Homo sapiens: one gene and its partners. Each later gene encodes a partner of the first gene's protein in a complex. Each region holds a gene or a part of one and is shown in the gene's direction. Other genes may lie near its edges. The genes, in order: PPP4R3A, PPP4R2, PPP4R1 and PPP4R4.

Evidence for each region.
Region 2: PPP4R3A (region 1) and PPP4R2 share a complex: the UniProt entries of both Homo sapiens proteins name them as parts of the PP4 complex.
Region 3: PPP4R3A (region 1) and PPP4R1 share a complex: the UniProt entries of both Homo sapiens proteins name them as parts of the PP4 complex.
Region 4: PPP4R3A (region 1) and PPP4R4 share a complex: the UniProt entries of both Homo sapiens proteins name them as parts of the PP4 complex.

The regions. Positions count from the first base shown.
Region 1 is NC_000014.9:91,507,311-91,514,195, reverse strand, and holds the start of PPP4R3A (serine/threonine-protein phosphatase 4 regulatory subunit 3A), read left to right. Parts: upstream 1-3,885; 5' UTR 3,886-4,548; coding exon 4,549-4,690; intron 4,691-6,885. UniProt on the Homo sapiens protein: Regulatory subunit of serine/threonine-protein phosphatase 4. May regulate the activity of PPP4C at centrosomal microtubule organizing centers.
Region 2 is NC_000003.12:72,992,605-72,999,816, forward strand, and holds the start of PPP4R2 (serine/threonine-protein phosphatase 4 regulatory subunit 2), read left to right. Parts: upstream 1-4,206; 5' UTR 4,207-4,433; coding exon 4,434-4,467; intron 4,468-4,502; exon of another isoform or gene 4,503-4,587; intron 4,588-5,472; coding exon 5,473-5,554; intron 5,555-7,212. UniProt on the Homo sapiens protein: Regulatory subunit of serine/threonine-protein phosphatase 4 (PP4). May regulate the activity of PPP4C at centrosomal microtubule organizing centers.
Region 3 is NC_000018.10:9,611,547-9,619,210, reverse strand, and holds the start of PPP4R1 (serine/threonine-protein phosphatase 4 regulatory subunit 1), read left to right. Parts: upstream 1-4,651; 5' UTR 4,652-4,726; coding exon 4,727-4,733; intron 4,734-4,936; exon of another isoform or gene 4,937-4,940; coding exon 4,941-4,985; exon of another isoform or gene 4,986-6,754; intron 6,755-7,664. UniProt on the Homo sapiens protein: Regulatory subunit of serine/threonine-protein phosphatase 4. May play a role in regulation of cell division in renal glomeruli. The PPP4C-PPP4R1 PP4 complex may play a role in dephosphorylation and regulation of HDAC3.
Region 4 is NC_000014.9:94,177,322-94,184,321, forward strand, and holds part of PPP4R4 (serine/threonine-protein phosphatase 4 regulatory subunit 4), read left to right. Parts: intron 1-7,000. UniProt on the Homo sapiens protein: Putative regulatory subunit of serine/threonine-protein phosphatase 4.

The DNA.
Region 1 (6,885 bases):
TTCGGGAATCTGAGGCAGGCAGATCACTTGAGGTCAGGAGTTCGAGACCAGCCTGGCCAACTTGGTGAAACCCCATCTCTACTAAAAATACAAAAATTAGCGAGGCATGGTGGCACAGACCTATAGTTCCAGCTGCTTGGGAGGCTGAGGCATGAGAATTCCTTGAACCTGGGGAGACAGAGGTTGCAGTGAGCTGCGATTGTGCTACTGCACTCCAGCCTGGGCGACAGAGTGAGACTCTGTCTCAAAAGAAAAAAAAAAAGGAGCAAATATATTTCTCCAAGGAAGAATTTGTTGACTGCAGTGTCAGCTCCTGCCTCAGAGCTTCCCCTCTGCTGCTAACCTGTCCTACATACTTTAGACTTGCCTAGCCAGACTGCACTATCATGCAAACAAATTTCTTGAGATAACTCTCTCCATCCTTGTGTAGATGTATTCTACTGGTTGTTTCTCTGGTAGAATCTAGACTCATAGAACTGTTAAGATTGTATTGTATTAAATTTCATTTAAATCTAATATTTTATGGTATGTTCCATAAACTATAATTTTTAACCTTATTCCATATACTAAATAATTTCTTTTTAATTTACTTTATTATTTTCTACAAAGTATTTCATGTTTGGTTTGGGGATCAAATAAGTATTAGCATATGAATAAATTTACTGATGTCTTCATTGCATCAAAAATTGACAAAATTGCTCTCATGCCCTAATACTTGAAATTGTTGGCCAGGCGTGGTGGTTCACACCTGTAATCCCAGCACTTTGGGAGGCTGAGGCAGATGGATCACTTGAGGTCAGGAGTTCGAGACCAGCCTGGCCAACATGGTGAAACCCCGTCTCCACTAAAAATACCAAAAATTAGCTGGACGTGGTGGCAGGCACCTGTAATCCCAGCTACTTGGGAGGCTGAGGCAGGAGAATCACTTGAACCCAGGAGGCAGAGGTTGCAGTGAGCTGAGATCGTGCCACTGCACTCCAGCCTGGGTGACAGAAGGAGACTCCACCTCAAAATACGTAAATAAATTGTTGCCTTTTTTTTTTTTAAAGAAAAAGCGACTGCTTTGTTTTCATAATTTTCCAGTTTTGTTTGTGAACAATGAGTTTCCGACTGGTCTTTGCAAGCACTCGTTTCTATCGTTTTTTTTTTGGTTTGTTTTTTTGAGACAGAGTTTCCCTCTTGTTGCCCAGGCTGGAGTGCAATGGTGCAATTTCGGCTCACTGCAACCTCTGCCTCCCGGGTTCAAGCAATTCTCCTGCCTCAGCCTCCCGAGTAGCTGGCATTACAGGCACGCGCCACCGTGCCCTGCTAATTTTTGTATTTTTAGTAGAGACGGGGGTTTCACCATGTTGGCCAGGCTGGTCTCGAATTCCTGACCTCGTGATCCGCCAGCCTCGGCTTCCCAAAGTGCTGGGATTACAGCCGTGAGCCACCGCGCCCTGTTTATATTTTAAGTTGTTGGGGAGGAAGGTCCCAACTTCTAAAGGATTTTAAAACTGAAAGTCCTGTATCCCAGAAACCCCTCAGCCCTGTTCATGCTATTAGCTTCCTTCCTAATAGATGGGTGTAACACCAGTTACTTTACAGGTTTCTTCTTTTTCTTTTCTTTTTTTTTTTTAAGACAGAGTCTTGCTCTGACACCCAGGTTGGAGTGCAGTGGTACAATCTCGGCTCACTGCACTCACCGCCTCCACAGGTTCAAGCGGATTCTCGTGCCTCAGACAGTCAAGTAGCTGGGACTACAAGCGCACACCACCATACCTGGCTAATTTCTGTATTTTTAGTAGAGTCAGGGTTTTGCCATGTTGGCCAGGCTGGTCTCGAACTCCTGGCCTCAAGCAGTCCGCCTGCCTCAGCCTCCCAAGGTGCTGGGATTACAGGTGTGAGCCACTGCGCCCGGCCACATTGCAAGTTTAAAAGATTCCTGGCAATGTCAAGCACTCGAACCTTCCAAAACTAGCCACTAGCCACATGTGGCTACCAGGCCTTCAAATTTTGGCTAGTGCAACTCACAAGCTGAATTTTTCATTTTACTTAATTTTTAAATTTAAATTGTTATTTTATTTTATTTTTTGAGACAGAGTCTCGCTTTGTTGCCCAGGCTGGAATGCAGTGGCACAATCTCAGCTTACTGCAACCTCCGCCTCCCGGGTTCAAGGATTCTCCTGCCTCAGCTTCCCGAGTAACTGGGACTACAGGCGCACACCACCATGACCGGCTAATTTTTTTGTATTTTTGGTGAAGACGGGGTTTCACTATGTTGGCCAGGCTGGTCTTGAACTCCTTGACCACGTGAGCCACCGCGCCCAGCTAAATTTAAAAACTGATACTTGATTCAGCTTTTGGAAAACTTTTAAGTATGATTGGAATAACAGAATATGTGAATCTACATTTTCAACTGTAAATTTAATAAACTCTACCAGCCCGGGCAACAGTGAAACCCGTCTCTACCGAAAAAAAAAAATAATAACAAATTTAATTAATTAACTGGCAGTGGTGCTGCGCACCTGTGGTCCCAGCTACTTGGGAGGCTGAGATGGGAGAATCGCTTCAGCCCAGGAGGTTGAAGCTGCAGTGAGCTGAGACTGAGCCACTGCACTTCAGGATGGGTGACAGAGAGACCCTGTCTCAAAAAAAATTTTTTTTCAATAAAATCTAAACGTAGATATTTCTGATGAAAATTTAGTATCCCAACAGAGACTTGCTGGAAGGACAAAATATATCACATTTTTAAGACATTGTACGTATATCTCATTAGTAATTTGATTATTGAAATAACTTTTGAAAATACCGCACTAAAACGTTAACACTAATTTCACCAGTTTCTTCGTACTTTTTGTGGCTACTGCAAAATTTAAAGTTATGTGTGTGGCTGCATTATATTCCGAGCGGACAAGCCCGACCTGGCAAGGCCTGGCAAATGGTAAAAGCCACCAAAATGGTGGCATATGAGCTGCATGATAGGAACGAGAATGATATTCCTTTGTGAAGATCAACAATACTTGACATCAAGTAGGTCTTCAAAACACAGGACTACCTAATGCTGAGAATTACTCCTCCCGATTACACAGTGTCGCATTTGTTTTTGTGAGCGCCTTAAGTTCCTTTTCCGACAAGAAAGGCTGGCAGACAGTTCTGATAGGGATGAAGGAATGGAGCACTTGGGGCTTGCCTAGGCTGTAAGGTGAAGTTTTAGAATTGTCACTTGGAACTCGGTCCCACGCCCAGAAATCGCAAACAGTCCCAAGTTTCCACACTGGCCACGCCAGTCCGCGACCCACGGCGGCTCCCAAGGCTGCGCCGACCTAGGCGCCCACACCCGCGACCTTCCCCGGAAGCGTTTCCATTTCATTCCCTCAAGTCCGCAAGGCGCCGGGTGGGTCCCGAGCGCCCGACTCAGCCATAAAGGCGGCCCCGGGAAAACGCTCTCGGAAGCGGGTAGGGGCCCAGGCCCACGCTGCCCGGCGTCCGCAGGCCAGGGGCAGGGGCAGAGGCAGGGACGGGGCAGGAACAAGGGAAGGTGGCGGCGGGCGGAGGCGAGGCCGAAGCGCCGGGGCCCGCGGGCAGAGGCCGCAAACGTATCCACGCCCCTCGTGCATCCTGGAGCGGGGCTGATGACGAACACAGGGCGCGACGGACGCACACACCGCCCAGCGCTCGCACGACGGTGCGTGCAAGGAGGCGGGAGGGAGCCTCGGGCTGTCACCGGCGCAATCTGCGTCCCGCCTCCTCCGCTCCCTGCGCTCCCGCCACCTCGGCAACTCCGCGCCCGCCTCCCGCCTCCGTCGGAAGCCTCCGCCGCAGTAAGGCTCCCGGTCTCGCTGCTGTCTCTTTAAATGGTGGGGCTACGAGCCGCCCCTGCAGCTGCTCCCTGGGTGGCCCCGCGCGCCGCTTTTGAGGGGCGAACCAAGATGGCGGCGGTTTTGGCTGTGTGAGGAAGACGGAAGAGACGGCGGCGGAGGGAAACCGACTTCCACTAGTCCGGGTCGCTTGGGCGGCCGGGGGCCCTCAGAGTCTCCCGGGCAGTGGTAGCAGTTGCAGCAGGATCAGGCGCCTGTCGGCTTCTGACGTTTAAAACAGGGGGAGCGGAAGGGAGCCACTGGCCGCGGTGGCAGGGCCAGGTATAAGGAAGGAAAATATGGCGGCGGCGGCGGCGGCCTGAGGAGGCGGCGGCGGCGCGGGAAGCTGCTTCGCGGAGATCATGGCGGAGGCGGGAGCAGGGCAGTGACGGGAGCCCCGAGTTCCTAGCGCTGCGGGGCGGGAGGCTACGAAGCGCTGCGCGGCCCCCTCGGGGCTGCCGGGCGCCGGGCTCGCCAGGCCTGGACAATAGCGCCGGGGAGCCGGAGGCGAGGAAAGGCGGCGGCCCAGAGCTCGGTCCCTGGAGCGGGCCATGCAGGCGGCGGCGCGGCCCCGCGGCGCCCAGCGGCGGCAGTGAGGCCGGGGAGCCCTCCGCTCGCGGGCGCCCTCACGCCTCGCCCCTCGCCTCTCCAGGGCCCCTTTCCTGGGCGTCTACTGGCGGGGCCCCCGCCCCGGTTCCCGGGCGGCACGATGACCGACACCCGGCGGCGGGTGAAGGTGTACACGCTCAACGAGGACCGGCAGTGGGACGACCGGGGCACCGGGCATGTGTCGTCTGGCTACGTGGAGCGGCTGAAGGGCATGTCCCTGCTTGTCAGGGCTGAGAGCGACGGTAAGTGAAGCCCCGCGCGGCGGGACCCTCGCAGCCCCCACGGCCCTGGGCCGCCTCCCTGGTTCTTGCGGGGCATGGCGCTCGCTCCACGAGAACAGAGGGACGGCTGGGGAGGGCGGCCACCTCGGGGGAGGACGGGCCCCAGGTACCCCAGTCTTGCGGGAGCTCCCCGGAGAGCGCTTGAAATGTTTCCTTTCTCTGAGTGCCTGGTGGCATTTTGGGTACGAGGAGAGCCAAGCGTGTTTGAGCTGTGCCGCCCTGGAGTGTGGAGAGGTCGAGGACCTGAGATAGGGAGTCCGGAGTGTGCTGTTCTTTTGCACTAGAGTGACCTTGAGAAAGACACTGATTAATCCGATCTGCTGCCTTAGTTCACCCATCTGTAAAGCAGGCATGAAACTTTGCTTGGAGCTAAGAAAGTTCTTGGACCTTTCACACTTTGAAGAACGTTTTGCTGTGCTTTTTTTGTTTTTCTTTTTAAACATCTTTTTGCTACATGTTTCTGATCGTGTTGAAGCTTGGCAACACTGTATCTGGCAACTCTACACTAAGAGAAAACGCTTTCCCTTGCGAAGATTTTCGTTCACCAGTGTTGGTTGTCTTTTTTATAGTAATGCAGAATTTTGTGTGTAGCTTACTATATAAACATCTTGCAAAGTTGGAATCATATGAGCTTTTTTTGATTGCTTAAATGGGTGTTCATAATTTGGTTAACAGGTGCAGAGAAGTTGGCAGATAATTTTTAAAACCTTTCGGATCTTCCCTAGTGTTTATGCTTCACAAATTTTGAAACAGCCCTCAAGGTTCAAAGACTAAGTTGTTTGAAAATAAGTGTTTCACGTTTTTTCTTTTTTCCACATGTGCTGTTTCATATTTTAAAAGGCTTATTCTCTGTAGGGATTGCCACTGTTTTTGGCGATATACAGTGAATTTCACTTAAAATACTCAAGTGGGGTAAAACTATTCTCAAATTGTTACTTCCAAACGTGAAAGTAAGTTATCTTCCACTTCTTTTTGTACATTAGTTTATATTTTGCAGTTGCTAACGATGCCAGTTTATTATGATTGTAGCGATTCTGTATCTGAATTATTGCAAACTAATTTCAAGGAATTTTCTTCAATTGGACTCTCCCCAGAACTCCAATTCCATGAAAAACCAACAAGACTAGCCCTTCTGTAATTGAAGACTCTGGGAATATTGATGTTCTATTTAAATTGAAAGTGGTAATCTGGAGTATATTGCCCACAGGTTATAAGGTTACCCAAAGTAACTTAAATCTGGAGAGAAATTATTTTCTTTTGGAGGCATTTAAAAATTTTTGAATGTTGGGTGTATTTTTCTGGGCCTGAGTTATTGGCTTCTTAAAATACAATTTGAATGTCAAGTGTTAGTGTAATTTTGTATGTGACTCACATAATAACCTACTCTAGATCTTTCACACATTTGGAAAACTTTACATAGTATGTTGGAAGGTATGGACTTTTTGTATCAGCTTCTTATGAGATGAAAGTATCCGTAGATTTCTTTTTAATTTTTTACTTTCAAAAAAATAAAAACAGGATTTTGCCCTGTTGCCAAGGCTGGTCTCAAACTCCTGACCTCACGCAGTCCACCCGCCTCGGCCTCCCGGAGTATTAGGATTACAGGCATGACCCCCATCCCAGCTGAAAGCATATGTAGATTTGAGATCAATTTATTGAAATCCATATTAAAAATAATACATATAACCTTCACATCATGTGTTTAATTTGATTCATTATACAAAAAATCCTTTAAGATATTTTTAAGTATAAAAGTTTAATGTCGTACTATCAGAAGTATGCTTTTCTGCATAATTAATATAAGCAATTTTTTTCCGTGTATATATTATTATAGTATATATAATAGTATATATAACTATAGTATGTATAACATGTATATATAACTATAGTATGTATAATATATAGTATATATAACTATATATAATATATAGTATATATAACTATAGTATATATAATTATAGCATATATTCTATATAGTATATATAACTATAGTATATATAATTATAGTATATATACTATATAGTATATATAATTATAGTATATATATTATATAGTATATATAATTATAGTACATATACTATATAGTATATATAATTATAGTATATATACTATATAGTATATATAATATGTATAGATTTTTTTTTTGAGATTGGGTT
Region 2 (7,212 bases), on another chromosome or scaffold:
GGCCTTTCAAAGTGCTGGAATTACAGGCGTGAGCCACTGTGCTGGGCCTCTATATTTCAGTTTTCTTTTCTGTTAAGTGAGGAGGATCCTCATAGGATTTTGTGAGGATTCAATTAAATACTTTTGTAAACTGCTTAGGAGACACTTTTTGATAGTTTTGTAAACTGCTTAGGAGAATGCCAGACACATGAAAGTATTTAATAAATATTAGCTGTTACTATTAAATTTCTTATTTGTTGCATTAGTTTCTAAAATTTAGAGGCTTAGAACAGTTATAGACATTGTCACCTTTTACAGTTTCTGTGGATCAGGTATTGGGAAGTGACTTAGATGGGCTGCTCTAGTGTGGGATGTCTGCTAAGGTTGTGATCCAGATGTCAGCTGGGGCTGCAGTTACCTGAAGGAATTCCTGAGGCTGGAGGATCCACCTTCAAGGACAGTTCTTCTCTCTGTGGGGCCTTTCCACAAGACTGTCTAATGTTCTCATGACATGGCAGCTGGCTTCCCCCATTGAGGCCCCATTTACCAATTCAAGAGGCCAAGGCAGAAGCCCTAGTGCCTTCACACAGACAGCTGTGATTTGGTGTGCCTGATTATACTAGGGCATGAATCTCAGCAAGTGAGGATCATGAGGGGTAATTGTGGGGGCTGGTTGCCACATTTGTATTCTGTTTTCTTCCCAGGAAATCGGCATCAGTAGGAGGCTTATTATTCTATTTTTTATTTTTGAGTCAGGGTCTCACTATGTTTGTGGCCCAGGATGGATTACAGTGGCATGATCCCGGCTCACTGCAGACTTAAATTCCTGGGCTCAAGTAATCCTCCTAGCCTCCCAAGTAGCTAGTACTACAGGTGTGCGCCACTACCCCTGGTAATTTTTTATTTTTTGTAGAGACATGTTGCTGGGCTGGTCTCAAGTGATCCTCCAGCCTTGGCTTCCCAGAGTACCGAGATTACAGGTGTGAGCCACCATGCCCAGCCAGTAGGAGGCTCTAGTAATTGCAGACATTGTGATACAGGCCGGCTGGAGAAGAATTCAAGGAAGAAGGAAGGAATGAACCAAACGAAGTTATTTTTTCAGCCTCATCTTTTGCCTCTTCTCCCCTTGTAATCTTGACTTCCAGACACTGGATAAGGTCTATGACGGGCGACAAAGTGCACACAGCAATGACAGCCTAAGGGAATCGTGGAAAGTGTACCAGAGGAAGTGGTGTTTAAGTAGAGATCTGAATTTGCAGAGGAATGTAGCAAAGTGCATTGGAGAGGAGGAGCTAACCAGAGGGGCACAAGCCTTGATTATCTGAAGACCAGGTGGGATCTGAAAAACCATAAGAAATTCAGTTAAGCTGACAGCAATGAAAGGGACAAAACAGTGTTAGAAATTAGCATAATGTGTTCTCCAACAGAAAGTTCCAATAGAACTTTTTGCAATAATGAAATTTTCTTTATCTGAACTATCCAATACAGGAGCCACTAGCCACATGTAGCTACTGAGCACTTAAAATGTGGCTGGTGTGACCAAAGAATTGGATTTTTAGGCCAGGGGCGGTGGCTCACACCTGTAATCCCAGCACTTTGGGAGGCTGCGGCGGGTGGATCACAAGGTCCAGAGTTCAAGACCAGCCTGGACAATATGGTGAAACCCCGTCTCTACTAAAAATACAAAAATTAGCTGGGCGTGGTGGTGGGAGCCTGTAATCCCAGCTACTCGAGAGGCTGAGGCAGAGAACTGCTTGAACCCGGGAGGCACAGGTTGCAGTGAGCTGAGATCACGCCACTGCACTCCAGCCTGGACGACAGAGCAAGACTCCGTCTCAAAAAAAAAAAAAGGAAAAGAAAAAAGAAAAAAAAAAGAATTGGATTTTTATTGAAGAACTCAGGAACTGAATTTTAAATTTTATTTAATTTTAATTAATTTAAATTTCAATATTCACACATGGCTAATATCTACTGTACAGCAGAGCTCTTACAGTAAGAGACCCTTCTGAATAGTAGAGTGGCAGATAGAAGGAGAGGCTAAGCTTTGCCATGTAGGCAGTAGGCCCTTTCAGACTGGAAGGGACCTGGATAAACTAAACCTGGTGCCTGGCAAGTGCTGGCCAAGTGCTTGATGTGCTACCCTATTCCCTCTCTCTGCAAGGATATTTGTAATTGAGCTAGATGCTCTGAACAACGAAGGTCTAAAGACACAGGGGACTGGTTCTCTGATGGCACAATTTGAGAGAGCTATTTTGGGTGTGAATGTCTTTTGCCTACATCTACCACCTAGGATCAGGGTCAGACCCACTGTCTTTTAAGAGGGTCAACAGTGTAAAGGCTGTGTCCAAACTTGCATCTTCTTAGACCAAACAATAACCTTCCTTCCCTCCCTTGGTCCTTCTCTCCCCTCCTTCCTTCCATGACTTTGTGCTATGCTGGGTTTTGGGAAGAGGAGGTGGAACAACGCAGTACCTTTTCTTTTCTTTCTCTCTCTCTCTTTTTTTTTTTTTTTTTTTTTTTTTTGAGACGGAGTCCCATTCTGTCGTGCCCAGGCTGGAGTACAGTGGCTGGAGTATCTCGGCTCACTGCAACCTCAGCCTCCAGGGTTCAAGGGATTCTCCTGCCTCAGCCTCCCGAGTAGCTGCGATTACAGGTGCCCGCCACCAAGCCCAGCTAATTTTTTTTTTTTTGTATTTTTAGCAGAGACAGGGTTTTGCCATGTTGGCCTGGCTGGTATCAAACTCCTGACCTCAGGTGATCCGCCTGCCTCAGACTCCCGAAGTGTTGGGAATACAGGTGTGAGCCACCGTGCCCGGGCAGTACCTTTTCTTTTAAAAGCTCACAGATGAGTATAAAAATGTCCACGCACTGGCTGGGAGCCAGATGATTTGGGTTCTGGGTTCTAGTTCTGTCTCCCCAGACTTGCTGTCTGTGACACAGCTTTCCCATTTGTAAAATGTCAGGGCTGCAGAGGACTTCTGAGGTTTCCGCCCTCTCCTACCTCCTGGGAGATTATGTCATGTAATAATGCTAACAGTGGTAATAAAAACCCAGCCACGTTGAGTGTTCCAGGTTTCACGCACTGTGCCAAATGTTTCACATTTGCCATTTCACTCAATCCTCGTGGCCGTTTTACAACCCTCATTTTATAAATAAGAACCCTGAAGCTGCCTGAGTTTAGGTAACTACTTCAGGGCCACACAAGGAGTAAGTAGTTGAGTTGGGATTTGAATATTGATTCCAAACCTTGAGCTCTTAATGACTTTGCTGTATACATTACTTCTTGCCACAGGTGGGCCAGTGACGAACGAACGTTGGGTTAAGCAGGGAGGTATTCTTGTTAGGATTATTAGCAATGCTTAGTGTATGTATGTATTGTTAATTTTATTATTATTTTTTTGAAACAGTCTCGCTTTGTCGCCTAGGCTGGAGGCAGTGGCGCGATATCGGCTCACTGCAACCTCCGCCTCCTGGATTCAAGCGATTCTCGTGCCTCAGCCTCCCGAGTAACTGGGATTACAGGCACGAGCGACCACGCCCGACTACATTTTGTATTTTTAGTAGAGACGGGGTTTCGCCATGTTGGCCAGGTTGGTCTTCAACTCCTGACTTCAGGTGCTCCGCCCGCCCCAGCCTCCCAAAGTGCTGGGATTACAGGCTTGAGTCACCGCGCCCGGCCTGTATTTATTTTTATATAGAGAAGGGCGAGGGAGCGGGGTCATTTTGTTACCCAGACTGGTCTCGAACTCCTGGGCTCAAGCGATCCTCTCGCCTCGGCCTCCCTCCCAAAGTGTTGGGATCACCGGCCTGAGCCCCCTGCCCGGCCTCGCTCTACGTTTTTTAGGCGCATTCTGAACGTGAAGTGTATACACTGAATTCTCACAGCAACTGCATAGGGCATCAGTACCAGTGCCCTTACTGTACAGATGGGGAAAATGAGGCTCAGACAGGCGAAGTAAGTAGCTTAAGTTCACACAGAGAGGAAATGGCAGGGATTCAAAGCCTAGGAGTCCGCCTGCAACCCTCTCGCCTGACCGTCCAGTCTTCAGCTCCGCGGAGCCTGGGCCTGGGGCTGGGGCTGGGGCTGAGGCTCTGGAAGCCGCCGGGACGCAGACGCCACTGGGCCCCAGCGTCACACCTCGGCCGCGCACGCGCTCTCGGGTTCCGGGCCGGAGCGCGCGGCGGGAGCGAGGACGGCGGCAGGGAGCGTGCGCGCGGTGACGTACCGGGCGCCATGTTGGAGGGTTGGTGGTAGCGGCTTGGGGAGGTGCTCGCTCTGTCGGTCTTGCTCTCTCGCACGCTTCCCCCGGCTCCCTTCGTTTCCCCCCCCCGGTCGCCTGCGTGCCGGAGTGTGTGCGAGGGAGGGGGAGGGCGTCGGGGGGGTGGGGGGAGGCGTTCCGGTCCCCAAGAGACCCGCGGAGGGAGGCGGAGGCTGTGAGGGACTCCGGGAAGCCATGGACGTCGAGAGGCTCCAGGAGGCGCTGAAAGGTGGGGGTAGCTGCCCCCTCTCCATTCCCCCTCACCTTCTCCGGCTCGCTCTTCTCTCCTTTCAGGGCGGATGGTTCCGAGGACCGGGGCCGGGCGCGGCGTGGGGAGAGTGCTTCCCGGGCTCCCATCCCCCTCCACCTCCCCAGGGGCGGGGAGCCCTGTGGGCAGCTCTCTCCCGCCCCGCTCTGGCTTTGTGTCGGCCGCCGGCGTCTGGGCTGGGGGAGGGGAGCCGGGGAAACTCTTGCGGGGGCCCCAGTCTTTCTCCCACCCGTTCAGGGGACGAGTGGCGGACCCGCAGACCCCTCCCTCCCAGATATCCTCTTTTCTCCACCAGGCTACCCGTACGCTAGGCGTTGGGGTGGGAGAAAAAGTAAACGGTTGGTGGGGGCGGGGGTAGGGGGTAGCATCGCAACTTTTAAGTTGTCTCAGTATGCCTTTTTCAGGGCTTTTGAAGTCATCTTTCCGCGCCCTAATTTCGAGGTGGTTGCCTTCACTGTTCTTGATTGCACGCCTTCCACGCAACAGGCTTGAGAACAGTGGCTTACAAACTTCGAGTAGAGAGATTTCAGCGTTTTGAGAATTATTCTTTGACATTCAGAATCATTTGGGGACGGCAACTTGGGGTAGTTGGTGCTTCTTAGAAAGGCAGATTTATGGACTTAGATGAACAATTGGTGGGAGTCGGGGCCTGGGGATTTTTATTTTCACTGGATTCCCAGCTTAATATAATGCTGGTGTTCCCCCGGACCACACTTCGAGAAGCACTGCGTTAAAAATGGTTTGTGAAGTTGAGTGCCCCCTTTAGGAGGATTCTTGTTATCTGTAAAGAGGGTGACATGTTGGAAGTAGAACTTGGAGGATTGAGGTGGTAATTTGGTTGAGAGGCCTTATTTTTTTAATTTTGTATTTAATTGATTTTTAATAAGGTAAAGGACTAGGAGGAAAGTTTGTTTTTAGAGCGCTTTTGAGAAAACTGATAACGTTTTTTTTTCTTCCTTCATCTAGATTTTGAGAAGAGGGGGAAAAAGGAAGTTTGTCCTGTCCTGGATCAGTTTCTTTGTCATGTAGCCAAGACTGGAGAAACAATGTGAGTTGAAAACATGCATTTGTCGTTATAGACCAGTGCATTATTAAGAATTGCTCAGGAAAGGGAAAAAAGTATATTTTGGGATAATTAAATAATTCATTCTAAATTGTAGAAGTCCTGGTCATTTAAATAATTTATATATTTACATTTAAAGAACGTATACGCTTACTTACTTTATACATGGTCTGTAACGGATTTTAAAAACCTGTGTATGTTAAAATTTTCTTTATAGCTAGGCTTTGGCACGCTTAGAGAATGTATTAGTCTTAACGAGCCAGAGAAAGGAAGAATGCCTATTCCATTATGACCCTTTTTGGCCATAACAAATAGGCTTATTCCTAGAATTTTGTGGCTTTGATTCTGTTTCAGAGTCTTGGTGGTATTTTCTCATATTGTCGTGTGTCCAGCCTTTTTTTGGTCATATTTGCATATGTAGGTGTTTAAAGTGTCACTTCTATTTATCGTCTGGAGGACTCTGTTATTATCTGACAAATTCCAGATGCTACAGTTTTGACTTGTAGACTTTCTAAGATAGCTGACTTGTTACATATGCTCAGCATTTTATTCAGCTCGTTTCCAAATGTTCTGAATCTGAAACTTACGCTATAAAGTTAGGGCTGTGTTCAGAAGGAACATTCCAGGTCATTGTTTTGCAGTTTGTGTGGTAGACACAATCTGGCTAAGTTTATTTGTAGACAACAGTGCATCTTTGATGACTTCTTTTTGTAGTCTTTGGGTGGGGGCTGGGGCAGCAGGAAAGGGGTAGGTTTCTATGGTTTCAATGTTAATAAGTGGGTTATCTGCCCAGTATGAGTGTAGCTTTCAGCAAGAATTGTATAATTTCTCTGGCTTTATTATTAGCAAGTGTTCATTTCTCACAAGATTTGCTTATTTGTAGTCTAGCCTTTTAACAACTAGCCTAATTTTAGAAAGAAAAAAACCTTTGCTGCCTCAGTGCTTGATTTAATGGTCATGCCTGCAAGCTGAGTCTCCTTAGTATTCTATTAAAATACACCAGTCATTTTGAGAACGTCAGTGTGATGTGTTCAATGTTGTATTTCTATTTATTACATTAAAAAATGGGACCCTCTGGGCGGGGGAAGTCATTTTTACCTTCGCATTAGGGTTTCATATAGAACATCTTGATTTAGAACAATGTAAAACTGTTAATTTGTGCTTATATAGATAAGCCTAAAAATGACCACATGCCATCTTTCAAAAATAAATTAATCCCTAAAACATAAATGCTTAGACTGCCACTATTCCTCTTGAATTGCTAGTCGGCACAGACTTAGCCCTGTCAACAATGTCAAGCCAAATAGCATTTTACTTTTGGCTGTTTTTTGATATACAAGATGATATCAAACTATTTGGAGATGAGTACTTAAAACGTCTTACTCAGTTTATCAGGTTTGTACACACTGCTTTCCCTTTTTGATAAAGTACATTGCCTATAAATGTATAAATAATTGAAAGTTTCTAAAAGATAGCTTTTTAATATCCTGTCTTACTGGAACACCAAGTGGCTGGGGAAGTTATCTGATTTTTTTTGGACAGTTATTTTATCCTGGTAGAAGAGGACTTAAAATTCCCAATCCTCCACCCCATATTCGGTGTTTATGTATTCACTAAGCATGTTTTGTACTGAAATGATTGGT
Region 3 (7,664 bases), on another chromosome or scaffold:
GGGCAGTGTTCAGCTCCTGTAAATGTAGAAAGAACAGCCTGAATCAGGGTAACTCTGTATAGAGCTCAGTTCTGTAGGTATTTTTCTTCTCTTTTTTCTTTTCTTTTCTTCTCTTTTCTTTTCTTTTCCTTTCTTTCCCTCCCTCCTTCCCTCCCTCCCTCCCCTTCTTTCTTTCTCTCTTCTTTCTTAAGCACAGTGTGAGAAAATGTCTCTTTAGCTGATGTGAGTAAAGAGATCAAGTATCTTTGAAAAACTATGAAAGCTCTAGGAAAGGCTAAGGCTTCACATTCAGAATGTCACCTTGACAGGGAGCTTTAAAGGGAGATAGAAGAAGCATAGAGAGGAGGACAAGTAAAATTTCACAAATATACAATTTTTTTTTTTTTTTGAGACAGTCTCGCTCTGTCACCCAGGCTGGAGTGCAGTGGCGCGATCTTGGCTCACTGCAAGCTCTGCCTCCTGGGTTCACGCCATTCTCCTGGCTCAGCCTCCCGAGTAGCTGGGACTACAGGTGCCCGCCACCATGCCTGGCTAATTTTTTTGTATTTTTAGTAGAGACTGGGTTTCACTGTTAGCCAGGATAGTCTCGATCCCCTGACCTTGTGATCTGCCTGCCTCAGCCTCCCAAAGTGGTGGGATTACAGGCGTGAGCCACTGCGTCTGTCCTTACCTTTATACAATGTATAGAAATGTATAGGAGGCTTTAGGTAAGAGACTGGCAATTAGTTTTTTTAAATTGTTCCTTTTTTTTTTTGAGACAGACTCTCACTCTGTGTCCCGGACTGGAGTGCAGTGGCATGATCTTGGCTCACTGCAACCTCTGCCTCCCCGGTTCAAGTGATTCTCCTGCCTCAGCCTCCCTAGTAGCTGGGATTACAGGCATGTGCCACCATGCCCAGCTAATTTTTTGTATTTTTAGTAGAGACAGGGTTTCGTCATGTTAGCCAGGCTGGTCTCGAACTCCCAACGCCAGGTGATCTGCCCACCTCAGCCACCCAAAGTGCTGGGATTACAGGCGTGAGCCACCACACATGGCCTAAAAATTGTTCTTCTTATTTGAAAATGAGTTTATGAGGGACATTTTGTCAATCTGGCTTCAAAAAAGATGAATGAAATGAATGGTAAAAATTTGTTTAACGTGCTCGTTTCAGCAGCACATGCACTAAAATTAGACTGATACAGAGAAGATTAGCATGGCCCCTGTGCAAAGATGACACGCAAATTTCATTTTAAAAAAGCAAATAAATATTTGTTTAAAAATCATTTTTAATCATGTAAGTATTTCTCCATTTTTCAGACTGTTTCTCTTTTCATCATTTAAAACAATAAATAATAGGGCTGTCCTTATATACTTTCAGTTTCAGGAATGATAATTCTGAAGAAAAAAGTGAATGGTTCAATCACCGATACAAAAATTAACAAACATGATAGTGGCAAGCAACATCAGGTGGGTTTTGTTTATTAGCGATGTTTTCGCCATTTTTTTTTTATGTTTGTTTGTGGTTGAAAAGCCAGACACATTAATTTCCAAGGCTCATTGGCTGCTAAGAAAAATTGTCACTGTGGCCAGGCACAGTGGCTCATGCCTATAACCCCAGCACTTTGGGAGGCCAAGGCGGGCAGATCACCTGAGCCCAGGAGTTTGAGATCAGCCTGGGCAACATGGCAAAACCCCGTCTCTACGAAAAAATACCAAAATTAGCTGGGTGTGGTGGCGCCCACCTGTAGTCCCAACTACTCAGGGGGCTAAGGTGGGAGGACTGCCAGAGCCTAGGAGGTGGAGGTTGCAGTGAGCTGAGACTGCACCACTGCACTCCAGCCTGGGTGACACAGCAAGAGCCTGTCTCAAAAACAAACAAACAAAAACCCTTTCCTTATCATTTGGAAGAGGACTTATTCTTAAAAATGCAGGCCTTAGTACTTACATAGTTGGATGATGCTTTTAGGAAAATGACTTGGGACACTCCCCCTATATTTTACACATTTCAGTGGCAGAACAGGATAACAATTCAGACTTCCTGTGTGTCTGACCACGGACAACACACAGCTCTGCCATCCACGAGCTGCATTGTAAGTGAAGCTGGGTTAAAGGTATGTAGAATAATGATTGCTATTATTTGTTTAAATATTATTTCTTAGAAGAAGGGGACAGAGTGCAGTTTGTAAACACTGGTTTAAAAACTCCTTTCTTTTAGAAAGGAGAGAAAGTGAAATGTAAAAAACACATATTTGTGCTGAACCATGAATGATACCGTCACTGAAATATCTAAAAACCATATTGCTTAAAGGCACTTCTTGCAATGTGTAATTCAGCTAAGATGATAATCAAATGCATAGCTCTTGAATACAGAAAAATGATACAGATCCTCCTCCTTTGCTGCCCTTCCCACAGAATACTGAGATAAAACTTACTGAGGCCTAGCTACCAAAGGCAGAATTAGTTGTTCCATATCCTAGGCTAGCATTTGGTACATAGTCCCTATTTTATCATGATTACTGAGAACTGTTAAGTCTAACTCAACTGTGTAGATCAAGACAGTTTTGTCTTAGTGCATCCAGCGGCTGAAGCACAGTTGGCACGCTGTAGATTTTGTGTTGTTGCGGTGAGACCACCAGTTAGAATAAAGAGCTGATTTGGGCCGGGTTTGGTGGCTCACACCTGTAATCCTGGTGCTTTGGGAGACCAAGGCCAGAGGATTGCTTGAGGCCAGGAGTTCAAGACCCACCTGGGCAACACAGTAGAACCACGTCCCTAAAAAATTTTAAAAATAAATTGGCCAGGTGGAGTGGCCTGTGCCTTTAGTTCCAGTTACTTGGGAGGCTGAGATGGGAGGATCTCTTGAGGCCAGGAGTTCGAGGTTACAGTGAGTCATGATTGTGCCACTGCACTCCAGCCTGGGCTACGTAAGGCAAGACTGGCTCTAAAAAAAATTTGCTTTTTAATGAAAAAAAAAAAAAGAGCTGATTTGGCTCTTTCTTCCCCCATTTACCCAGAATTGCTAAAGTGGTAGATACTGACAAGGTATCTTAGCAGGGCAGAAGTCTCATGGTTTGAGTCAGTTGGGACCAATTGCTGTTGATGTGAATTTCTAACTCCTTTGTCATTCTGAGTGTGTCAGCTGAATTCACATAAGGGCATTCACCAAGGGAGGAAGAGAAAGGCCTTTAGTTTTAATTATTTTATAGTTGAGAAAATTAGACACATACTCGGGGTTACGGGGTCTATTCTGATTTTTATTACTCCTAGAAATTTCATACAGATTATAATCTGTCTATCTTGTTAGTAATATCTGACTGAATTTTTTGGAATAGCTATGTGTAGAACCCATTTTATTACACAGATTTAGGAATCTCAGAGGATCTGATTCCTTAGTCTCTTAAATCTTCAGTGGCATTAAATGCCAACACATTGTCCTTGGTCAAGACTACAACGTAGAAAGGAACAAGCTAATTAACTACTTAGAATTCCCTCTCCTAAGAGACCACATCGCCAAAGTGGCACCATGACACAGCTTGGTGTTTTGTTGGTCACTTTAGGAGAACACCATTTTGGAGGCCTTGGGTGGAGCTGGAGATAGAGCCATGGAGGTAGAATCGTGTCGGAAAACCTGGGTTTAGCCCCATTTTGTACTTGGGCGTTTGAGCTAATCGCTTAAGTCACGTAAAACAACAAGACTAATAAAGTCTGGGATACAGACTTTAACACCTCAAGTGCTGCCAAAAGTATTTAGAAGACAAAGCGAATCATAGGCACCCTTCACCGAGCACCTCCTAGACATCAAGAACCATGCTAGGTTCCCTACATTCTTCATTTAATGCCAATAACCCCACGAGGCAGTTATCACCTTCATTCTACAAATGGGCCCCACTCCTACCAATTAACTGGCTGAATCAGGATCTGACCCCGGGCCTGCCAACGCTCCCGCTGGTGGATTGCCCGCCTTGTCAGCTCGAGTTGGCAGGACGTGGGAGTAAAAACCCGGCGCCCCAGCCTTCACCGTGCTGCACGAGGAAGCTGGCTAGGCAGGCATGACTTTGTCAGTCAACCATCCCGCAGCCGGGCCCTGGGCTTTGTTAGCAGCCACTTGGCGAGGGCCCCGGGCGGGTGGGGAGGCGGCGCTTCCTCCAAGAGGAGGTGGGACCCCGGCCCCGACGACCTCGGAGCCGCCCCCGGCCCCGGATCGCCGACGACGTACGTGCAGGCCTGGGGATGGGGCGCTGGCTGCGAGCGGCGCGCCCGCCGAGATGGCTGCGGCTGGCAGGGCGGTGGGCGAGGCCGGTGACCCAATAAAGCGGCCGGGCCGCGGGAGGCCCCGCCCGGCCGGGTTCCGGCACTCGCCGCAGGGTCCCGGCCGGCGGCAGGTTGCGCGCCCCCGTCCGCAGCGCTCGGCGTGAGGGCGGCTCGGGAGGAGGGTGTGAGCGCGCGTCGCCGGGCCGGGACCCGGCAAGCAGCGGGAAAGGCGGGAGGCGGGAGCGCCGGTCGCCCGGGAGCCGCGCGGAGGGGCAGGCGGGGCGGGGCGGGGCGCGGCCGGGGGCCCGGGCGGCCGGGAGCCGCGCCGCCCGCGGCAGGCCCGGGCCCTCGGCCCGCCCCGCGCGCGCGCCCCCGCCAGCCCGGCCCTCCTCCTCCCCGCCGCCCCTCCCGCGCGCGTCCACCGGCTCCCCGGCTCGCGCCGCTCCATGTAGCCCCGGCTCCCCGGGCGGCCGCGGAGGAGGGGGCGACCACAAGATGGCGGGTACGTGGCCCCCTGTTCTCCGGGCGGCGGCGGCTCCTCGAGCCCACCCGCCCTCCGCCGCAGCCCTGAGTGGCTGCCGGGCCGGGGCCGGCGTGGGGTCCCGGCGCGGGAAGGCGCCCCCGGGGCGGGGGGGAGGCGGGCGGGGGGGGGGCGTCGCGCCGGGCCCCGGGGCGCTGACCGGGCCTTTCTTCTCTCCCCTCGGCGCAGACCTCTCGCTGCTTCAGGAGGACCTGCAGGAGGACGCAGACGGATGTGAGTGGCCCGGCCTCGCGGTGGCCTGGCAGTCCGCGGGGAGCGGCCGGGGAGGGCGGGCGGCGGCGAGGCCTGGGCCGGGCCCTGGCTGGCTGAGGGGACGGTGGGCGAGGGCGGCCCCAGGCGGGCTGGGGTGGCGATCGGGGGGGAAAATCTCGCGTCCGTGAGGAAACGGCGCGCCCAGGTTCCGCTGGGGGAGGGAGACGCCCGGAGTAACGCCCAAGTTCGCTTTCCGCCCTTCGCTCTCTTCTCCCGGCGCCCCCGAATCGCCTGCGGGCTCAGCAGTGGCGCGGCTGTTTTGGAAGGAGAAGCGGTGGGGCAGGATTTGAAGTGGGGTTTGGGTGTGTTTCTGCCCCTGGTGTCCCCTTCCCCCGTCACTCTAGGAAGGAAGAGGCTCGCGCGGGAGGTGTGTTTCCTTAGAGTCGCTCTTCCAGGAGCGCCCGGGGGTCAGCCTGGGCCCCGGCTAGCCGTCTGGGCTCCCCGACCCGGTTTTGGATTGTTTGAGGATGACATACCTGTCATTTTACTTTGGCTGGTAGCAGTTTTCAGATGCTCCCGATTTGATTAGTGGATTACGAGAAGGTTAGAAGGTGTGGCCTCCGCAGGAATTACTAGGTTTGGAGAGCATATTTCTTTAATGCGGATGTTCAGAAATCACCCAGCCCTCCTTCAGTGTTAACAGTGCAGCTTTCCTTTGAGGTACTGAAGTTTTTAAAGAGTTGACGCTTTTATTTTTAAAAAGACAAAGTTTCTGACATTTCCTGATGGCGACGGAATTGATATTTAGAAAGGAATTTTTCGTCTTATATGTACTTTTCTAAGCCTCAGAAAATAATTTGGGTCACGATAGAAAAGACAAAAGAGTTAAGCAGGTTTGTATTGAAAGAAGTGACAAATTGCAGTTAACTTAAAATAGTTTCTATTCTTGCTAATCTTCCAAAATAGCGACCCATCAAAAAATCAATAGGTTTTGAGATGCATTTTAAAAATGCAGAGTGTGCAAAATATATAAGCGAAGATCATGGGATACATAAGGGACCAAGAAATTGTTCTGAGTTGAGATGATAACCATAGTAGGATTGTGGTCTGTTTAGTGGAAAGCCTACCGGATGCTGAGATTGACTGTCTAGTACCTGTATAAGTAATTTCAGAGATGGCTGCAGTTTGAAATTACTCTTTTAAATACTCTGTAGTTAATCCTTAGCATTGTCTAATGTGGTTCCCTTACTCAGAGTAAACTTAATTTTTAGATTCCTGGTTGTTTTGAGTAAAGTAAGGGGGATTTACTATTTAGATGGATTATCTGAAACGAGTAATTTATCTTTAAAGTAAATGAACCACATCCAAACTTTTGCTAAGTCTGTGTTTTTAGTGAGGTGGCTCAAAACAGCTCTCTTAAAGGGAGCAGTACTCATGTAGTGAAGGGCAGCTTTAACATTTTATTTAATGTTTACCTTAAGCCACTTATCTGCCTAATAGTAAGTTTGAGATATTATTTAAGGCATCTGTTGATTTCAGATCTCTTGCCAGGTTAGGATTGGAGAAATGGCCCTGATTATGTTACCTCGAGGAGGGCTTTTTATATTTATGTTCGACTTCGTAAATAGAAGATTCATTTATTCAGCAAGTATTTATGACTGGAGCAAAAACTTCTCACTCCTGAAGGATGAAATGCAGTCTCAGTTTCTTCCTTAGCCCCCAAGAAGCACAGTGTAGAGGGGAAGGCATACCTGTGAAAAATTCAACCATGAGTTTCAACACTCTGCCAGGTACTGGGGATGGAGCTTTGAGAAAGATGGGCACAACCCATGCCCTCTAGTGGTTTACAAGCAGTTTTGAATCTAGGTGTACAGTACAGTATTACAGTTACCACTGGAGCCAGGCTGCTCTGTTTGTCTTAGCAGTGTCTTTTTGGGCAGACTTGGGCAACTCACTTAACCTCCCTATGCCTCAGTTTTGTCATTTGTAAGTAGGCATAAGAAATATTACCTACTTCATAGAGTTGTTCAAGGCTGTACATGAGTTAGTGCCTCTGAAGCACTTGGAACAATTCCTGGTAAACAGCGATGATTATGATTATGTTTGCTGTTATGAGAAAAGAGCAAGGGAAGCTTAAAAGAAGAGCAGAGAAGGAAACACTGATGTTGAACCTTACAGAATGAAGGTACTTAAAGATGCTGCCAATGCTCGCAACTAAATTTTTTTTTTTTTTGAGATGGAGTTTCACTCTTGTTGCCCAGGCTGGAGTGCAAAATGGCGCGATCTCGGCTCACCGCAACCTCTGCCTCCCGGGTTCAAGTGATTCTCCTGCCTCAGCCTCCCAAGTAACTGGGATTACAGGCGTGTGCCACCACGCCTGGCTAATTTTGTACTTTTAGTAGAGACGGGGTTTCTCCATGTTGATCAGGCTGGTCTCGAACTCCCGACCTCAGGTGATCCACCTGCCTTGGCCTCCCAAAGTGCTGGGATTACAGGCGTGAGCCACTGCGCCCGGCTGCAACTAACTTTTTAAAGATTCTGTTTCCTGTGCATTTTAATTTAGGATAAAACAGACATTGAAGGCACAATAGTTATTTGCATATTCATAATTTGGTTGAAGGCTTTGTTAGAGTAATTGCTTATTTTTCTCAGTTACTAAAGTTTTTACAGGTGATACCTTTACCCAGAATATTCAGGAAC
Region 4 (7,000 bases), 2.7 Mb from region 1:
GAAAACTTCTATTTATGTGTGAATTCAACGGTATGTGTTTTGGGTGTTTACTTAGAGAATAATCCAACTTTTAACCCATTTTCATATTGTGTTATATTTGGAATACTTTATTCCTTAACAATTAACATGTTTATTATGATGAACAATAGATGTCAACATTTGCCTTTTCCCACAGTTCTTTTACTCAAAGTAGGTAGAAAATTGATGAAAGTGTGGACAAATGTGTTTTAATCTACAACAGTTAATGATTTGAAATAAACTCCTGTTTATTCCTACTGAATTCTTTTCTTTAGTATAAACACTGGCTTAGAATTAGGAAATGGAGAGTCTTGCTCTATTTACTTGTGATAGAAGACACCGTATTCTAAATATCAGTGATAAGGCTTCTTTTTAAGGAAAGCTTATTTGTTTTCTATTTTGCTTTTATTGTTTGTTAGCAAACTAGGTTGTCTGAGTTGTCTTTATTTCTCAGACTCAACATCAGTTTCGCTCAGTTCTGGAATTTACAAAGCCCTTAAAGAGACAGATGGGCCCTCTCATTCTTGGACAAGAGAATTTTAAAAGAGATTCAATATCTCCTTTAGTTTCTTGTGGCTCACCTACCTTGAAGGAGGTTTGCAAGGTGACTCACAAGGGGAACACTGGTTTGGTTATGTATGGATTCTCCAACTGAGTTCTTCTTTTGTATCCCTACCATCTTACCACCTCCTGGGGGAATGTGGGATTTCACCTTAGTCCAGCTTTGGGAGGGATGATGCCAAGAATGCCTGAAAGGGTCTTTCTTCCCTGGGATTCAGGGGAGGGGACAGGATTGTTTCATAGAGATGTTCTGAACTTTGCCTCTGTTTAGGCCTTCTCATCTTCTCTCATGTATTGAGCCTGCTATTGTAGATGTAATTTATTCCTTTTTTTCTAGTTTGTACTTTGCTGAGTCCTTTTTTCCGTCTGTCATTGATTTTCAGGTTTATTTTTGAGCACTTTACCTTTTCCTCTGCATTGAATATTATATAAATGTATAATATATAACATGTTATATATATATTTTCTCTCTGCTTTTATGTGTCAGGTTTGTTTCTTTAGTTCTTTTATTTTGTGTATTGAAACTATTTTGGAGTATTATGTTAAATTAGAATTCAAAGTCAGATGTGTAAGCATCAGTAAGCAATGCTTTATATTAGTGGGGTTCTGATAGCATTTAGATTGAATCCAGTATCTGAAAAAAGCATTTTATATATAGAGTACTGTCATCGATAAAAAACAAATTATACTGTTCATTGTCTTACCCTGAAATATGACATGTCAGTTATTAATGACATTTTCACAATTAAGTTTAGAATATTACAGTCTTCAAAGATTTGACACAGATGAATTTGTGGTTTTGCATACGTGCGATACTGATATACCCATCTGTGGCATTTAGCACTGAAGCAAAACAACTTTCCTAATAGTCACAGCTTGTGTCTTAGTCAAAATCATATCTTATCTTTTTCCTGTTTTTTCTCTTCTTTGTGATTTTGCGTATATTTTTGGAATGTACTTAAAACATGTGAGTGATTTTATTATAGAAGAATCCTAAGTATGTATACTGTGCTTTCATTAGGTAAATCTTTACTTGTATATTTCTGATTGTCTACCAGATAAAGTGTAGACCCTGAAGGCTGGCATTCAGAATACTCCATAGGTGACTCTATCTTAGCTGTGCAATGTGATGTCCCACCAGTCCCTCACTTTTAAAAATGGCTTTACTGAGATATAATTCATAGTCCTTGTAGTTCACCCATTTAAACTGTACAGTTAAGTGAGTTTTAGTATATTCACAGAATTGTGCAACCATCACTGCAATCAATTTTAGAACATTTCCATCACCCCCAAAAGAAACCTTGTACTATTAGCAGTTGCTCCTCAGTACCAACCCTCTCAGCCTTTGGGAACCACTATTCTGCTTTCTGTATCTATGGATTTGCCTATTCTGGAGATTCCTAAACACGGAATCATACAGTATATGGCCTTTTGTGACTGACTTCTTTCACTTAGCATAAGGTGTTCAAGGTTCACCCATGTTGTAGCAGCTATCAGTAGTTTATTCCTTTTTATTGCAGTGTAGTATTCTACTGTATGGATATAGCGCTTTTGTTTAGCCATTCATCAGTTGATGGATATTGGGTTGTTTCCACTTAATTCTTCACTTTTTGATTCAGTCATGCTGGCCTTTTCACTGTTACTCAGTTTCATTGTGTTTATCCTTAATTTTTGCTTTTCCTCATCCTGGAGTACTCTTTCAATATATCCTTATCCAACATACACCATCTCTAGGATCCAGCTGTAATCTTACATCTTTCATAAAGTCTTCTCTAACTGCTTAAACCACATGGATCCCAGGCTTCTTTGAGCTCCGTTATCACTTAGTGGCGCTTTCTTCAATTGGCCATTAATCACTGATTTACATTCCTTAACTGTGTGTGCATGTTTTCTTCAGTAGATTGTAAGGTCCTGGAGGACAAGCTTTTAGAGGACAAGGGCAAGCTTTCTTGTTGTTGTTCTTTCTTGTTCTTCGCTGTGATATAAATATATGCCTCTTAATGGAATAAAGAGTATTTAAGATGACCATACTGCCAGATGAATTAAGGAACTTCTGATATTTTTGATTTTAGGTATTATGAGTCATATCTTGTTCCACAATTTATTATCTATGTGACAGTGGTGAAGTTAGTTATGGTTTTCGAGCCCTGCTTTTCATTTGTAAAGTGGAAATAATCATTCCCTTTTCCCAGTGTGGTTGAAGCACCTGGCACATAATAGGCATCCCGTTACTGTTAATTCCCTTCTGTCTCCTTTTCCCTTTCCCTACTTCCTTGCTACTTAGGTGCTCAAGTTACATTTAAAACTTTAAAAGAGGATAATGGTATTAATTTTGCCTTCCAATAATTTAATAAACGGACAAAGTATACCAACTGAAGTTTGTGATAGATATCCATTAACTTCGTTTGCTAATAGTATTTATCAGAAATTAGAATCTTCACAAATCATAATTAAGCATTTTTAACTGAGTAATAGTAAGGTCAGCCTGTTGATTTATATTTTCTTACCAAATGACCCTAAGTAATATTTGCTATTATGCATTAAATGTATTGATTGGTTAATGTACTGAGACTAGCTTTTATGTTGCTTACTTTTAAAGTCACTTGTGACTTTAAAAATATTTTTCACTTTGTGCTGTGACTTTTAAAGCATTTTGAACTTTGCTTTCCCAGGGCAGTCAGATAAAGAGCTTTGCTTTTTTTTTTTTTTTTTTCTTTTTTCTTTTTTAAAGACAGGGTCTCACTGTGTTTCCCAGGCTGGAGTGCAGTGGCTATTCACAGGCACGGTCACAGTGCTCTAACTCCTGGGCTAAAATGATCCTCCCACCTCAGCTTTCTGAATAGCTGGGACTACAGAAGGCACACACCACCTCCACAGCCACTGCCCCCGATCATAAAGTGCATCTTTATTTGGAACTTTTTTTTTTAACTTTCTCTTCCTATTTTTTAAAGAGTAAGTGCTCCCCCTAGTGATATGAAAGAGTGAGATTTCTGCAGTCAAATCAGTGGAAATAAACAAGTGTTGTACCATGTGAGAACTCTGGCGTACTTCTTCTTGGGTTCAAGACTAGGATAGGGTAGCAATGAGACAGTAAGGAAGAACTCCAGTGATTAAAGCTTTGCTACTCACCTAGCTTTTGGTTGTTTTTCTTTTAAAATACCTATCTTATTTGCTATCCCAAAGTGGAAAGTTGTGTGAAAAACTCCTTTGAATGCCCTCCTTTTTATGACGTGTGTCCCCACATTTACTTTCATTATTGTCTTGATTTCTGTTTTTGATGCTTGCTTCCTTTCAGTATTGTTTTAGTGAGGCATGGTTTGTGTGTGTGTGTATGTGTGTGTGTGAGAGAGAGAAAGAGAGAGGAAGAGAGAGAGATCACATTTGTGTTGTGCATGCATGTGTATATGTGTATATAGGTGGTCTTGAGTGACCAGTATTGCTTGCTCAGTTTTCTTTAGTGATACACAGGAGAGGACTTTTGCATTCTTCACAATTAAGATAGATAGTTGGTTAGTTAATACAAACAATTGGCTAGAATCATAAAATCACAAATGTTACATATTTTCAACATCAAATTTTAATGTAAACTATAAATATATTTTCATTTGCCAATCTTTTGATGTGAAGTCATGATCTTTTCTTTGAGTATGGGTCTGCTGATTAAAGTTTGAAATTCTCCTTCTTTCATAAATCACCCCATAATGCATTTACAATATCAAGTTCAGTTTTCTTTAAAGTTGAACAAGAATTTAAATTTGCTTATGAAGCAGTCTGAAAGCATGGTTCTAGGTTTTTATGATTTTCTACTTGTGTTTTAAAAGTTTTGTTCTTCCATACTTTAGTAGCAATTTTCTTTGACAACTTATGTTTATTGAATTTAGTTTTTCTAAAACTTTTAACTTAATTTGATAGAAACAAATATATGTGTTCATATATTTAGGTAATATTTAATTAAATTATGTAATTGCAACAGCAAGTGAAATTTGAAATAAACTAGTTTGAGAACATACTTAGCTGACTCTTAATTACAACTCAATTAGTGAGAGTGGAATTCTGTGGGCTTTCCAGAGAGTAGCCTATTAGCGACGAGCTTTCAGCTTGCAGTTGCAAGGGAGTAGAGAGTATTGCTTAATCAGGTCTTTTAACATCTTGTCACATCTCAAACACCTTTGTTTGAGAGAGATACATACCATCTCCTTTCCAAGTGTGCTCTGTGATGATCTTGCTTCATTCTTGATATTCCTCTCCTGTCTCTCTGTTGTATTTGTTCCCATGGTCTGGTTTGTTCTTTGTTTGCCTTTATAGATTTAAAAAAGTAATGAATTTGGAATATCAGTTAAAGAAGTACTTTCATAAGCTTATATTTTATTTTTTAACGCGAACTTTGAATGTATGCAGAAATGTGCACAAATCATAATACAGCTTGTTGAATTTTCACAAGTGAACACACCCATGTACCCAGTATCCAGATTAAAGCATAGAACATTATCATGTTAGCTTAGTAGCTTCCTTTGTATTCCTGTCCCAGTGCCCTGTACTTCCTGCAAAGGGTAGCTACTCTACTGACTTCTAACACTATACATTGATTTACCTGATTTTGCACTTTATATAGTAGGAAGCACTCTGTGTACCTTTTGTGTATAGCTGCTTTTGCTCAATATTTTAAAAAAGAGATTTATCCATATTGTTGCATGGAGCAACAGATTGTTCATTCTCATTGCTGTATACTATTCCATTATGTGAATATACCACAATTTATTCATTCCACTGCTGATGGACATTTGGCTTAGTTTTCAGTTTGGGGCTTTTATGAATAATGCTGTTATAATCATTCATGTACAAGTCTCTTGGTGAATACATGTGTGCATTTCTTTTAGGTATCATTATAGAAGCCGAATTGTTGGTCATAGCATATGCCTATGTCCAGCTTAAAAGATATTGCTAAACAGTTTTCCAGTGTGCTTTGACCAGTTTGTACTTCTGCCAGCAGTGTCTGAGTGGTCCCAGCCTATATATTTTTAGGAAACAAAAGTGACAAACTTCTAGTACATAATTTCTAGCATATCAATAATGAACTTCCTAGTTAATAGCCTTTAGATGTTTCGTTTCTCTGTGCATGACTTACACCATCTAACTTTTTTTCTTTCCCTACAAGAAGGGGAGTTCTATAAGGTTTTACTTGGCTACACTGTTGGTTAGAAGACTCTCAGTTATTAGATTGTCTCTTAGGAGATGAGGCATGTTGTGTGATTAGTTTTTCTTAGAAAAAGAGAAACAAAGTGGATATTGGAGTCTACCTGCTTATGGGAGTGCTATTCTCAGTCCCTGTGCTTTTAATGATTCTAAGAGGTCCTCATTAAAAAAATTGCCCACGTTGTCATCCTCTGTGAAGATGATGTACAAATGACTTGCCTTTCTACATGGAAATTGCAGGCATCTTCATTTGTATTTTTTAGGACAGAGGGATCACTGTTTAATATATTAAGAGCAGTATATAATGGATTCCAGCTGTATACCTTCCATTATTGCTAAGGCCAAATTACTGAAGTCTTTGGCAAACCTTGAATTCCCTGTTTTGGAAAAGTACGAGGTCTGTGAATATAAAGGGTTTGGAGATTGTTTCCCATCTCTGTTTCCTTGTCTTTTGTTATGAGAACAACCATGGGAGGCATCTGTGTCTTTTTTCCTACTTACCAAACACTCAGAAAGGTTTCTTTGTGACATCTGTAGAAAGCAGAATGCTCTCATGGGATCTATAGGAAAAGCTTGAAAATAAAAAGTGAAATATTTTCATCAATGTAAAAGTGACCCATATAATGTCATTGAAAAGACCTCTGAAAGCGTAATAACATAATGTGATGTGAGAGAATTGAGCAAAGTTTTCATCTTGTAAGCATAGTGTTTTATTACTTTAAAAAAGCCTATACAATTCTGTAGTACAAAATAATTTCATAATATAGAATAATAAAATACATTAAAATTAATCTATAAAATAAGATAATATATAAAGCAATATAAAATAAATGAGTATACATATTTGAATAATGTGTCAAGTTATGTAACTATCAATGTAATCATATTATAACATATGTATATCATAAATGTATATGCATGTGTGTGTATATGTTTATTTTCATGAGCAATTAATTCATCCCAACGCTCCCTCTTGAGAAGTAGCTAAGTGAGACACAGGGACATAGGAAGATTGAGTTCTATCATAAATTATAACTAATTAGTTCCCAGTAAAAAGTGGGAGTTGTACTGCTTGGTTCCCAGTCTTGTAATGTTGAATTGTGCAGTAGTTTCTTAGTATTGACATTAAGAATTAGAGGGCTCACCATACCAAGTGGTAAAATTCATAGCTTTCTTTTTTTTTTGAGACACGGTCTTGCTCTGTTCCCAGGCTGGAGTGCAGTGGTGC